Linked DNA regions of Homo sapiens: region 1 is linked to region 2. Evidence: fine-mapped expression QTL. Tissue or cell type: whole blood. Region 2 holds a variant in brackets; the other region holds the start of a gene. All regions are shown on one strand. Distances are from middle to middle.

What was found. PIP is the estimated chance that this variant, and not a neighbour inherited with it, causes the effect.
Region 1: it holds the start of ASIC1, and the variant in region 2 is fine-mapped to the expression of ASIC1 in whole blood (TOPMed, PIP above 0.99).

What each region holds. Positions count from the first base shown.
Region 1 is chr12:50,054,963-50,060,267 of GRCh38, forward strand. It overlaps ASIC1 (acid sensing ion channel subunit 1), which reads left to right and starts at 2,634. Exons shown (of 12, transcript NM_001095.4): 1 at 2,634-2,954; 2 at 3,789-4,166; 3 at 4,797-4,992. The coding sequence starts at 3,805. RefSeq lists silencers at 2,437-2,596, 2,667-2,836.
Region 2 is chr12:49,974,285-49,981,873 of GRCh38, forward strand. It overlaps AQP6 (aquaporin 6), which reads left to right. Exons shown (of 4, transcript NM_001652.4): 2 at 40-198; 3 at 462-542; 4 at 1,181-2,855. The coding sequence ends at 1,387. It overlaps LOC105369764 (a long non-coding RNA gene), which reads right to left and starts at 1,221. Exons shown (of 3, transcript XR_001749143.2): 1 at 1,014-1,221. The variant C/A (reference allele first, on the strand shown) is at 2,715.

The DNA.
Region 1 (5,305 bases), 80 kb after region 2:
CTCAGCCTCCTGAGTAGCTGGGATTACAGGTGCGTGCCACCACGCCTGGCTAATTTTTGTATTTTCTGTGGAGGCAGGGTTTCACCATGTTGGCCAGGTTGGTCTCCTGACCTCAGGTGATCCACTCACCTCGGCCTCCCAAAGTGCTGGGATTGCAGGCGTGAGCCACCACGCCTGGCTGGCATTGCAGTTTTATCTTATTATTTTTATTTTTTGAAATGGAGTTTCGCTCTTGTCTCCCCGGCTAGAGTGCAATAGCACAATCTCGGCTCACTGCAACCTCCGCCTCCCAGGTTCAAATGATTCTCCTGCCTCAGCCTCTCGAGTAGCTGGGATTACAGGTGCCCGCCACCACGCCCAGCTACTTTTTGTATTTTTAGTAGAGATGGGTTTCACCATGTTGGCCAGGTTGGTCTCAAACTCCTGACCTCAGGCGATCCACCCTCCTCTGCCTCCCAAAGTGCTGGGATTACAGGAGTGAGCCACCGCGCCCAGCTGGCATTGCAGTTTTAAAAGCTCCCCAGGTGATTCGAATGTGCAGCCTGGGTTAAGAACCAGTGCCTTAGATTCTGCCCTGGTTTGGCTGCACTGGTGGTTTTACCACTAGATCCAAATGCTAATACTAATAATAGTTATTTACTTATTGGGATTTACTAGGTACATGCCAATGTACTAAGCACTTTCCATGCGTTAGCTCATGTAATCCTCGAAAAATCCTGTGAAATAAATATTATCTCTGCCTTACAGATGAGGAAACCGAGGTCCAGAGAGGTCAAGGGGCCTGCCTATGCTAATGAATGGCAGGGCCAGGTCTGGAAGCTGATTCTCCTGATTCATACCTTCTGTCTTCCCCCAGACTCCTCCTGAGGCTGCTCCTTGGCCTCAATCAGTCCTCGCCTGCCTCCACCTCACCTCATCACCTTCCCTCCACCCCCGCTGCTCCCTCAGTAACATCCCAGGTGACTGAAGCAATTGCAGCCATTTGAAGAGGCTCCACGTGTCAGTCAGCCTGCGAGCCGCGGGGAGGTGGGGAAATTACAGATGCTCCAAAATAGTGTTCCCCTCCCCCTGAGGATATTTGGAATTCAGGAATCAGACTCTGCCTGATGCTTCCTCAGGTCTCTGGGACCCTCCCAGGTGATTTCCCACTCTCAAATGCCCCCCACGAGTTGATTCTAAGTATCTGGGAGAGGGCTGCCACCCAGTGGCTGCCCGGGGGCATAGCAACCCTCCAGCACTGCCTGGTACCGCTGAACAGCTCCCCAAGACCTGAATGGAAGATCCTCCCTTCCTTTTGGCAGCTCCGTGTCCAGTCCCCTAGTAAATGGATCTCGACCTCCCTCCTCCACAATCTTAAGTCCACTCTCCCACTAGGGACCTCCAGACCCCTTCTCTGGTTTCCTAGATGTCCACTACTCCCAACTTCTCATCCAACTTCTTTCCAATGTGCCATCCCCTTCTCGTTACAGGTTTTCTTCTAACTTAAAGCCCGGCACCATGTCCTAGGAATACACCTCTCACCATCCTTCTCCCCGAGCCGCACCAGCCTGCAAGTAGAGCGAAGGAGCCACTAGAGACAGAACTCTGGTCCCCCGCACCCTCCTCCTCATCATCTGACACCATCAGACCTCAACAGCCTCTGTGCTAAGAGCCCCTAATGAGCATCAGCAAATTAACAACTTCCCCTTGATTGCTCCTTCTCTGTTAATTGGATAGGGAGGGCCCCCCTCCCCAAGGCCTCTCAGAGAAGAGGAGGGAGGCAGGGAAGGAGAAAGGTGAGAGCCACAGGAGCAGCCCCCAGGCCTGCGTTCTGTGCTGAGACTTCTGCTCCATCCCTGAGCATAGCTCCCCGTTCCAACCCTTCCTCACCCTGTCCCCTTCACTCCCTTTGCCTCCTTCCTTCTGTCCAAATTCCCTTGACCTCTGGCTATTTTTCCTTCCTTTTCTCTGCTCCTTCTTTGGAGATTTGGCAGTAAGGGGTTGCGACCATGCCCCCCACAAGCCCAAAGCTACAAGGATGGGATCTGAGTGGTCAAGGCTGCGTGTTGGCTCACATATGTGCACGTGTATATGTGTCACATGCAGGTGGGAGCAGGGATAAGAGCAGGTGAGTGCTTGCCATGTGGGTCAGGCCCCCGGGATACGTGGACATCTGTTGCGGGGGGGTGTGGTTGTGAATGGTGTGGTGTGACTCTGGTCGGTATGTGTGTCTGTCTCCATATGGGCTAAGTGCTTGAATTAGTCAAGTGTGACTCGGAGCGTGTGTGTGTATGTGTGTGTGTACGCGCGTGTGTGCCACCAGAGGAAGCAGCAGCAAGAGGCAGGAGCATCGATCCGAAGGAGACAGCGCGGGGAGAGGGACGCTAGGGGCAGACACCCTCCCTCCTGCGCGCACACACGCGCGCGCGCACACACACCACACACAGAGTCATACACACAAGCCATAGGGCCTCGCAGGCAGGGAGACGGCTCCGGGACTGGAGAGAGGCAGCGCCGCCGAAAGCGGCCGCGAGGAGGGGCGAGGCGGCGCGGGGAGCCCTGGGTCCCGCTCCCGGATCCGGGGCCCCGCGCGCACACCAGCCCAGAGACAGCCTCGCAGACACTCGTAGGCGCGCACGCGCACCCTCTCCCCTCCCCCTCCCCTCCCGCCGCCTCCCGGCCGGACGATGGATCCCTGCAGATCCCAGGGCTGAGAGCACCGCGCACCGCGCCGAGCCCGGGCAGACCGAGCCGAGGCGAGCGAGCCAGCGAGCCAGCGCGCGCGGGCGGGCGGACAGATCGGAGCCGAGCGGGGCCGGGCGGGGCGCTCCCTGCAGGGCTCTGCGCGGCGTGCCGCGGCGGCCGCGGGCTCCGGCCCCGGGCCATGAGCCCCTCCGCGACTCGGCGCTGAGCCCGCCACCGGTCCAGCGCCCCAGGACCCGCCGCCGGCTGCCGGCTTGCCGAAGCCCCCTCAGGTGGGTTTCCGATACCCCTGCCTTTGGCCGCGAGGCTCCTCGGTACCCCGAAGCCGGGACTCTCCTCCCTCTGGATTTCCCTTGCTGCTGGGGCGGCTCGGTGGCTGGGGAGGGGGGCGGGGGCCGAGCTGGGGATCTGACTGCGACGAGAAGCTGGACTGGGGGGGGCTGCGTCCGGGGCGGGGACAGCTCGCTGTCATAGGGAACCGCGCCCCCCCTCCATACATCCACCTCGGGCAGCCCGCCACCCCCCACTCCCAACATACACACAGCCTGCGCTTATGTGAGAACTGGAGACACCCGCAGGTGAGGACTCAGGCTGGGCCCCTCCCTAGATGTAGCCACCTCCCTGGGGGTTTTCTGGCCCCAGTTTAGCCCTTAGGACCACAGCCCCGTCCAGGGAATACCCGTGACCAGGACAGGAGCTCCTTACCCCGGGGTCAGCCCATCTGGGTGAGTTTTCATCTCCAGGATGGGGTGGATATTCTTGTCCCAGAGTGACCCCACATCTGGAGGGAACTCCTGCGCCTGCCTATGGGTGCATCAGGACTTCCCCCTCAACCTCGGATGACTATATCTGGGGTCTCCCCGGGCCTGGGAAGCTTCTCTGGGGAGCATTCTCTTGGCCTGACCTGACCCCCTGTGCCTCTGTATTTGGAGGAACCCTGGATGTGTCCCTTGGTCAGCCACCTCTGGGCTTGCAAAGCAGGGAAGTCTTCTGCCCGAGGAGTGGTGACCTCTGGAGATGAGGATTCTGGATGGGCACATGTGGAGGGGCTCCATGTGTACTTTCATCCCAGGACAATGATAGACTGTCCCTCCCTCCTCCCCCAGGATCCCCTCAACAAGGATGGAACTGAAGGCCGAGGAGGAGGAGGTGGGTGGCGTCCAGCCGGTGAGCATCCAGGCCTTCGCCAGCAGCTCCACACTGCACGGCCTGGCCCACATCTTCTCCTACGAGCGGCTGTCTCTGAAGCGGGCACTGTGGGCCCTGTGCTTCCTGGGCTCCCTGGCTGTGCTGCTGTGTGTGTGCACGGAGCGTGTGCAGTACTACTTCCACTACCACCATGTCACCAAGCTCGACGAGGTGGCTGCCTCTCAGCTTACCTTCCCTGCTGTCACGCTGTGCAACCTCAACGAGTTCCGCTTTAGCCAAGTCTCCAAGAATGACCTGTATCATGCTGGGGAGCTGCTGGCCCTGCTCAACAACAGGTGGGTGGCTCCCACCCTCCCTCAGCCCTGCTCCTGGAGTTGCTTGAGTTCCAGTCAGGATGTCTGCCTCCCTGACCCACCATAGAGCCCAGCCAACCCTGCCCTTTAACCCACCCCCACCCCCAAACCTGCCACTCACAGCAGAGGAGTTAGGGTGCTGCTGAGCACCCAGTTAAGGGCACCCAGCCTCCGATCCCAGCATAGTCCAGAACAGCTCGACCCCCACCCAGCCTGAGGTATGAGACATTGTCACCCTCTCTGGAGTGAGCTTTACCTTCATTCTGGCCACTCTGTCTTGACCTTCTCGTCAGTTGGGGGATGGGGACAGAACATCTTTAAAGGGTAGAAACTACAGTATAAAAGCCACAGCCCCTGCCTTGTCTCTCTGCCCACCTTATCCATGCTTCCTCTCACCCATGTGCTGGGATGGGATGCCCTGCCCCTGGGCAGCCACTACAGTTCCTCCTGTCATTTCAGACCCATGTGGTAGAGCCTCTGCATGCCCAGCTCTCCTTCCTTGCCTACACCTGGGACTGATCCCCAGGGCTGGAGGCTGCCCCCATCACCCAAGTTGGGTGCAGGACACTGATGACTGTACTGACCCGTGTGTCACTCACCCCCGGACCCCAGGTATGAGATACCAGACACACAGATGGCAGATGAAAAGCAGCTGGAGATACTGCAGGACAAAGCCAACTTCCGCAGCTTCAAACCCAAACCCTTCAACATGCGTGAGTTCTACGACCGAGCTGGGCACGACATTCGAGACATGCTGCTCTCCTGCCACTTCCGGGGGGAGGTCTGCAGCGCTGAAGACTTCAAGGTGGTGAGTCCCCTCGTGTGGGGTGTGAGTCAGCCTGGCCCACAGAGGAGGAGGAGGAGACAAGGAGCAGGCTGGGCCTCTCCGGGTGCTTGCTACTCTGGGAGAGGAAGTTGTATGTCCTGGGGTTTGCTTCTAGTAGAAGGGGAGTTTGTTCAGCATAGGGGCACATTTGCACTCACTGCATGAGCACCTGAGCCTCAGCCTTGCAGCCATGATGGCAGGAAAGAGAGCCTACAGTGCACAACACACACATATATGCACACACGTGCGTGGTCTGGCATAGCCACAAACCCACCAAGCTTACCTTCTAGGCCAC
Region 2 (7,589 bases):
AGAGCCCGCGTCTGGTCCAGAGTAACTCCCTCTGTCCAGGTCCGGAACAGTGTCTCAACTGGCCAGGCGGTGGCAGTGGAGCTGCTTCTGACCCTGCAGCTGGTGCTCTGTGTCTTCGCTTCCACCGACAGCCGTCAGACATCAGGCTCCCCGGCCACCATGATTGGGATCTCTGTGGCACTGGGCCACCTCATTGGGGTAAGGAACAGAGGGGACACCGTGCACATGCACACACCGGGTCCGTCCCCGGGGAAACTGTGGAGCCCTGAAGGCCAGGCAGTGTCCCTCCCTGAGCCCCTCGTGCCTTGGAGCCAAAGTGGTACCCCCTGCACTCTAGGCCCAGGATATGGCACTACAGAGGCCGTGGCTGGGGCTAAGGCTCTGAGCCAGGACTGAGAAATGGTCCCCTCTCAGGCCTGCCTTAAACCTTCTCCCACCCTGACCCTGCACTTGCTCCCCAGATCCACTTCACTGGCTGCTCCATGAATCCAGCCCGCTCCTTCGGCCCTGCCATCATCATTGGGAAGTTCACAGTCCACTGGGTGAGCCCCTCTGCTGGCAGCCCTGGGGAGGGAAGGGAGCCTGAGTTGCCTGTAGACGGTGGGTTTCACTTGCAGCTTCCCTAAGCTCAGAAGGCCAGGGTGAATGTCTTGGCTGAGACTTCCTTTCTTTTCGGCTTCAGTTGCCCAGGATACCCAGTGGACTGGCAAGAAATGGGCCAGGGCAGGAGCTGCAGCCTTGGCCCAGACTTTTAAGTCCTGGCTGTTTCCTTATTCACTTTCTCCAGCTGGACCAATTTTCAAACTTGGATAAAGAAAAAGACAAACAGAAATAGACACACACACCAGCAGAGACAGAAACAGCAATAGCCAGGACTCCTGGCTAAAACGGGGGAAGTGAGAGGAAAGAGGCGGGGGCGGGTGAGGAGACTGGCCCCAGGCCCCAGCCACGGCTGCAGAGCCTGGGCTCAGCCCCAGGGAGGGCAGGGAGAGCAAGGGGCAAGGTCCCCTTACCTTGTGGGCTTGGGAAACACGACTCGTGGTTCTCAAATTTAGCACCTTACAGACAGTTGAGGGAGACCTGGGAGATCAAGTCGGCACTGGGGAAGCAGGCAGCGGTCCCAGAGCCACCCTGTGGTCCTGATAGCTCCTGGGTGGGGTGACGACATCCTTCTCCTCAGGTCTTCTGGGTGGGGCCCCTGATGGGAGCCCTCCTGGCCTCACTGATCTACAACTTCGTCCTGTTCCCCGACACCAAGACCCTGGCGCAGCGGCTGGCTATCCTCACAGGCACCGTAGAGGTGGGGACAGGGGCAGGGGCAGGGGCGGAGCCCCTGAAGAAGGAATCCCAGCCGGGTTCGGGAGCCGTGGAGATGGAGAGTGTGTGAAACAGCCTACGCCTGGCCGCGCCCTTGGGCTTCCTGCCTTGCAGGACCTGCCTGGAGGTTCTCCCTGGGGGTGGCGGGAGGGGGAGGCTTGACCTTTTGTCCTGACCAGGTGGGCTGGAGGGGACAAGCCCTATCCCTGGCATTACGTTTCTAGGTAGAATCTGGGAGTGAATTTGTCCCATTCCCTCTCTGTAGGGCTTCCCCACCTCTCGGTGGGACAGAGCAGAGGAAGGCAGGGGATTTAGGATCGCCCTCCCATCCTCTCACCCACTGGACCCCGTAGGAGTCCTGACCCCAGATGCCCAAGTCTTGGGGGAGAAAGGAATGGGAGCCCAGACAGCCACTCTGCTTAGACATGGGAGCTATAGGGACCTCAGGGAGCCCCAGCTTCTTACCCACCCAGGAAACCCTTGGTCCAGAGAGGACAGGCTTTCTGGAGGAATCAGGCCCTGGGACAGCCTCTGAGCTCCTGGGGGTGTTTCTCTGACCTTGGGTGTGGTTTTGGGGGCTATATTTCCTCCTTCAGACTGGGGGCTTCCTGAGGACAGAGACTGCTCTACCAATAGATCTTTGTTTGTTTTGAGACAGAATCTTGATCTGTTACCCAGGCTGGAGTGCAGTGGCATGATCTCGGCTCACTGCAACCTCTACCTCCTGGGTTCAAGGGATTCTCCTGCCTCAGCCTCCCAAGTAGCTGGGATTACAGGCGCCTGCCACCACGCCCAGCTAATTTTTTGTATTTTTAGTAGAGATGGGGTTTCATCATATTGGTCAGGGTGGTCTCAAACTCCTGACCTGAGGCGATCTGCCCACCTCGGCCTCCCAAAGTGCTGGGATTACAGGCGTGAGCCACCGTGCCCGGCCTCTCCCAATAGGTCTTTATTCCTCAATCCTCCAAATGCTCTGGAGAGGCCCCCACCCTTGAGAAGAACTGACACAGAGAAGAACATTTTCTCAGGCTCGTAGAGAGGTGGGATAGAGGAAGGGAGGTTTGAGCCAGACAGGCCTTTCCCAGGGAAGCCTCCTCCCAGGTGCTTGCCCCAGCTCCCACCCCACAGCCCACTCTCAGGCAGGAACAATCCTCAGAGGGGAAGTGCCCATCTAGCCATTGACTCATGACCTGGGTCAAAGAAGCCGTCTCCAGGCTCTCTGTCAGCATTACAGGATCCCCAGAAAGCTGTTGAATAAGCCCTAAGGGTGGTAGGAACCCAGGAGGGACCCAGGAAACTAAGATTTGAGATTCAGTGCCTCTGAAAGACTACCAAAATCTAAGTTGGTTTAATAGTTAAAAGCTGCTGTAGATTTATTCTGCCCACAACTTGGGGGT[C/A]CTTTCTGGATCTCGGCTTCTCCAGCTGTAAAATGGACACACAATCCTCCTCCAGGGACTGCTGTGAAATCAAGAAATCGGAAAATACTTTCAGAAGTTAAAATGCTAGAAAAACAACCCCAATAAATGATGATTATTGTTGCTGTTACTGTAATTATTGGGTATGAAGACAATTGCTGTTGGTAATGAGAGGGAGGAGGGGAAAAGAGAGAGAGAAAGATGATTGAGAGGGAGGGAAGAGAGACTGGGTTTTCTCTCACATCATTGGATCTACTTAACCAGGGACCCTGTGTGCTCTTCTCCTGGGTCTGCTGACCTTGAGGCTTTGTGGGTGTGAGGGGCTGTGGGAGGGCCCTGGAATGAAGAGGCGAACCAATAAAATCAGTTCTTCTCATCTCTATGACGCCCATCACCATGGTACCCTAAGATGCAGCAGCCAAATTCATATAAAAGATGGGTCCTGGCGGCCAGGCACGGTGGCTCACGCCTGTAATCCCAGCACTTTGGGAGGCTGAGGCGGGCAGATCACGAGGTCAGGAGATCGAGACCATCCTGGCCAACATGGTGAAACCCTGTCCCTACTAAAATATAAAAAATTAGCCGGGCGTGGTGGCGCGTGATTGTAGTCCCAGCTACTTGGGAGGCTGAGGCAGGGGAATCACTTGAACCCGGAAGGTAGAGGTTTCAGTGAGCCAAGATCACGCCACTGCACTCCAGCCTGGTGACAGAGCAAGACTCTGTCTCAAAAAAAAAAACAAAAAAAACAAAACAAAAGATGGGTCCTGGCCTGGTGCAGTGGCTCCCACCTGTAATCCTAACACTTTGGGAGGCCAAAGTGGGAGGATCGCTTGAGGCCAGGAGTTCGAGACCAGCCTGGACAACATGGCAAAACCCTGCCTCTACAAAAAATTAAAAACTTAGCCAGGCATGACGGCTCAAACCTGTAATCACCAACATGTTGGGTGGCCCAAGCAGGAGGATTGCTTGAGGCCAGGAGTTTGAGACCATCCTGGGCAGCATAGTGAAACTTCATCTCTATTATTTAAAATGAAAAATTAATTAAATTAAAATACAAACAAAAGATAGATCCTTTTTAGTGATGTCTCCTGAGGGACTGGGGATGGGGGAAAGGCTGCCCAAGTCTTCCAAGGGCAGTGTGGCAGGCCCAGCCTGTGACCAGTGCAGTAGCTGAATCCCTGGTGCTCATAGCCCCAGTAGCTGTGCTCAGCGTTCTGTAATATCAGCGCAGATACTACTCACATCTCTCCAAGCTGGGCCCCACTCATCCATCTTCACAATCTCTCAGAGTCCAAGGCTGCCTGTGTCCTTTTATGAGCAGGGAGAGCTGGGTGTCTGTATGTATGCATGTATGAGAGCGTATGTGTAAACAGAGGACATGATTGACTTGCTCAAGGTCACCTGGTTCAGGAGCACGAACACTTAAGGTCTCCCCAGCTCCCAGTTGAGAATTTTCCAAAATAGAGCTCCTGGGGGGTTCATACAAGCTGCAGCCCCAGGAAGGAAGGAAACAGGAACTAGAGGATTGAAGGGGATGGGGGCGTGGAGCTCCTATGGTAGGCTCTTAAGCTCCTTGACAAATGATCACTGCTTTTTGTCCCCAGAGCCAAGCACACACTGGGTGCTCAATATAAGTTTGATGAATGAATAAGGCTGGGCAGTTGGGGAGGATGGGAGGCAGTAATAGATCAAGAGGAGAAAATTTCAGGAGTTACAGCTCCAAATAAGCCAGTATGACAGCAGCTGAGAAGCCTATGCTTCCAGGCAGGGGCTGGGGAGAGGGTGCATCGCCAGATATTTGCTGTTCCACCCACAATTTCAGAGCAGGCTTCACAATGTCTGTCCCAGGAACATACAGGCCAAAATATGAGGGGTTGCCTGAAGAGAAAGCTGAGGGGCTATTTTCACTAACAGTTCTTCAAAGCAGTTCTGTCAGGACAGAGCAGGAGGAAATAAGTTTCCTGAGAAGTGGGGAATTAGGTTAGCCTCTGAAGAGCATCCAAGGTTAGACGTGGAAATAAGTAACCAAAGGTTCGCTTCCCCTCCTCTGGAGCCCTTTAATAGGACAGCAGGCCATCTGTTTGGATGAGGGAAGGGCTGGCCTTTGGAGAGCTGAATCTCAGTAGCTCCAGCTGGGGGAAGCAGGCTTCATTGGCATAGCCCCTGGGCCTGGGTGGGGGCAGGGGACATGGGGAGGACAGAGACCCAACCAGGCCAGCCCTTGGTGTGCATTCCCTTCCTCCTGTTTGTCAGGGAAGTTTTTAATTAATGGTGTATAATCTGATCTGACCCTTCTCCCTGCTGAGCACTGCCTTCAATCAGTGGAGCCATCTGCAATTGCAATTCATAATTCTCCCCAAAGGGAGGGGGACTCGGGCCGGGTGCCTTGGTGATTAATACAATTAGCCTTTTATGTTGATGATTGTCTTAGCAGGAGCAGATGATGCTGTGCTGGGAGCCTGGGCGGTCGCGTCCCGATTGGCTGGCAGGAAGCCCCTCTCCGCTTCCCACCCCCACTTTTCATCTTCGATCTACTACCTCCAGGTATAAAGAGGACAGGCCTCATCTGGGGTCATACTGTGCAAGGGGGAAAAGGCCAGGAAGGGGTAGGGCTCTGAGCCACATTTGGTCTCCTAGGACTGAAGGAAGAGTAGAGTCACACCATGATCTGGGCGCTTTTACATTCCAAAGAAAATCACTTTCACCTAAAGGATTGTGCGGACCAAAGTTAAAAAAAAAAAAAAAAACTACATAAACATAGATCGGGAGTTGACAGAGTTTAAATACAGGCTCAGGCACTTAGCAGCTGTGTGAACTTGGGCAAGTTACTTAAGGATCCTGAGCCTCACTTTCCTCATCTGGAGGATGGAGTACAGTCAAAAGGGAGCTGGAAGAACTACATGAGATGTGTGTGTGTTTCACACCATGCCTGACAGGCAGTCAGATCTCAATCAGTGGTAGCTATTTTTACCACCATCATGATCGCGGTATTGCATTCTGTCTACCATAAGTTCAGCTACTTCCCCTGCAGTTTCTAATGAGGCCTGGGCTATTACTAAAGAAGGGATCACATCCTTCCCATACCCCAGGCTTAGCTTGAGCTGAGGGGGGACGGGGGGAGAGAGTTTATGAGTGTATTTGGGGGAAAGGGGGAATCACAGAAGAGGAGTCAAGAATTAAAACATAAGAATTAAACACAAGAAAGAGGCCGGGCTCTAACCACACACCTGTAATCCCAGCACTTTGGGAGGCCAAAGCGGGTGGATCACTTGAGGTCAGGAGTTTGAGACCAGCCTGGCCAACAAGGTGAAACCCCATCTCTACTAAAAATACAAAAATTAACCAGGCGTGGTGGCACATGCCTGTAATCCCAGCTACATGGGAGGCCGAGGCAGGAGAACTGTCTGAACCTTGGAGGCAGAGGTTGCAGTGAGCCGAGATCACGCCACTGCACTCCAGCCTGGGCGACAGAGCAAGACTCAGTCTCAAAAGAAAAAAAGAGAGCGAGAAATAAGGGCCTTCTCATAACGGAGAAGTGGAGCACTGAAGTGATCACACTGGGAGAGTTGGGAGACTCCAGGAATGGAGGTAAGAAGTCTGGGTGGGGTGGAAAAGAGGTGAAAAGAAGCAGAGCTTTGAAGATTAGGAATTTCACATGAAAGCTAAGTAAACAAAAAGGGAGCTGACATCAGAGCTGAGAGTTAAAGGGGTAACACAGACCAAAATCACTGTGATCGATAATGAGGTCAAGGGATCTGAAACAAGCAGATCTGGGTTTTGATGGGAGACTCCACCAGGTCAGGGGAGGGGATCAGCTAAGTTCCTCTGGCCCCACAGTGCTGTTTTCTGTGCCCCGGAGCAACCCCAGGGAGTGCCGCGAGAAGAGAGATCGATGCTTGATACTAAGAGGGATTTTAACTGACAGCTTAGTGCCAGGCCCTCTCAATGTCAGAGAGGAAGATGGGGAGGGAAGAAGGGAGGGAAGAAGTTAAGGGCTAATCAAGATGAAGCATCTGGCCAAGCTGTGACCTCTCTGGGCAGCTGTGGCAGGGGGTCAGCATAGCCAAGATCCGTAATCACTTCTCAGGGAGCGGCAGCTACACTACAGCGCAGTCACATATTTAGCAAAAGCTGGGGAGGCAAGGCATGGTTAGTGAATGGGGTTTATGGGAGTGGGGAGTCCAATAGCACTAATTAATAGGCTGCAGTTAATTAGCAGAAAAGGGGGAAATGAAAAACAATGTTTCAGAGCTCTGATTGAAACCCATAAAGGGGCAGCTATTGCCAGAGCTGCAGGTGGAGGAGGCCAGAGACAAAGGCAGGGACAAATAACTCCCGCTCCACCCCCATGGACAGATGAAACAAGCTCCAGCCAGGCCAGCGTGTGGCAGGCCAGGTCTCACTAATGCAGGCCTCCATAACAACTGTTTCAGTACTCACTGAGTGGTTAAGTTAAATATTAAAAGCTAAGACAGCCAGTGCCCTTATACAAAGGCTGGAATATAACAAACGGCCACCAGGAGTTTTGCCTAGGTTGCTAGGAACGGTGGCTCACGCCTGTAATCCCAACACTTTGGGAGGCCGAGGCAGGTGGATCACGAGGTCAGGAGATCGAGACCATCCCAGCTAACACGGTGAAACCCCGTCTCTACTAAAAATACAAAAAATTAGCCAGGCATGGTGGCGGGCGCCTGTAGTCCCAGCTCCTCGGGAGGCTGAGGCAGGAGAATCGTTTGAACCTGGGAGGTGGAGGTTGTGGTGAGCACCACTGCACTCCAGCCTGGGCAAAAAGAGCGAAACCCTGTCTCAAAAAAAAAAAAAAAGAGTTTTGCCTAGGCCTTTCCTAGAGCTTAAAGC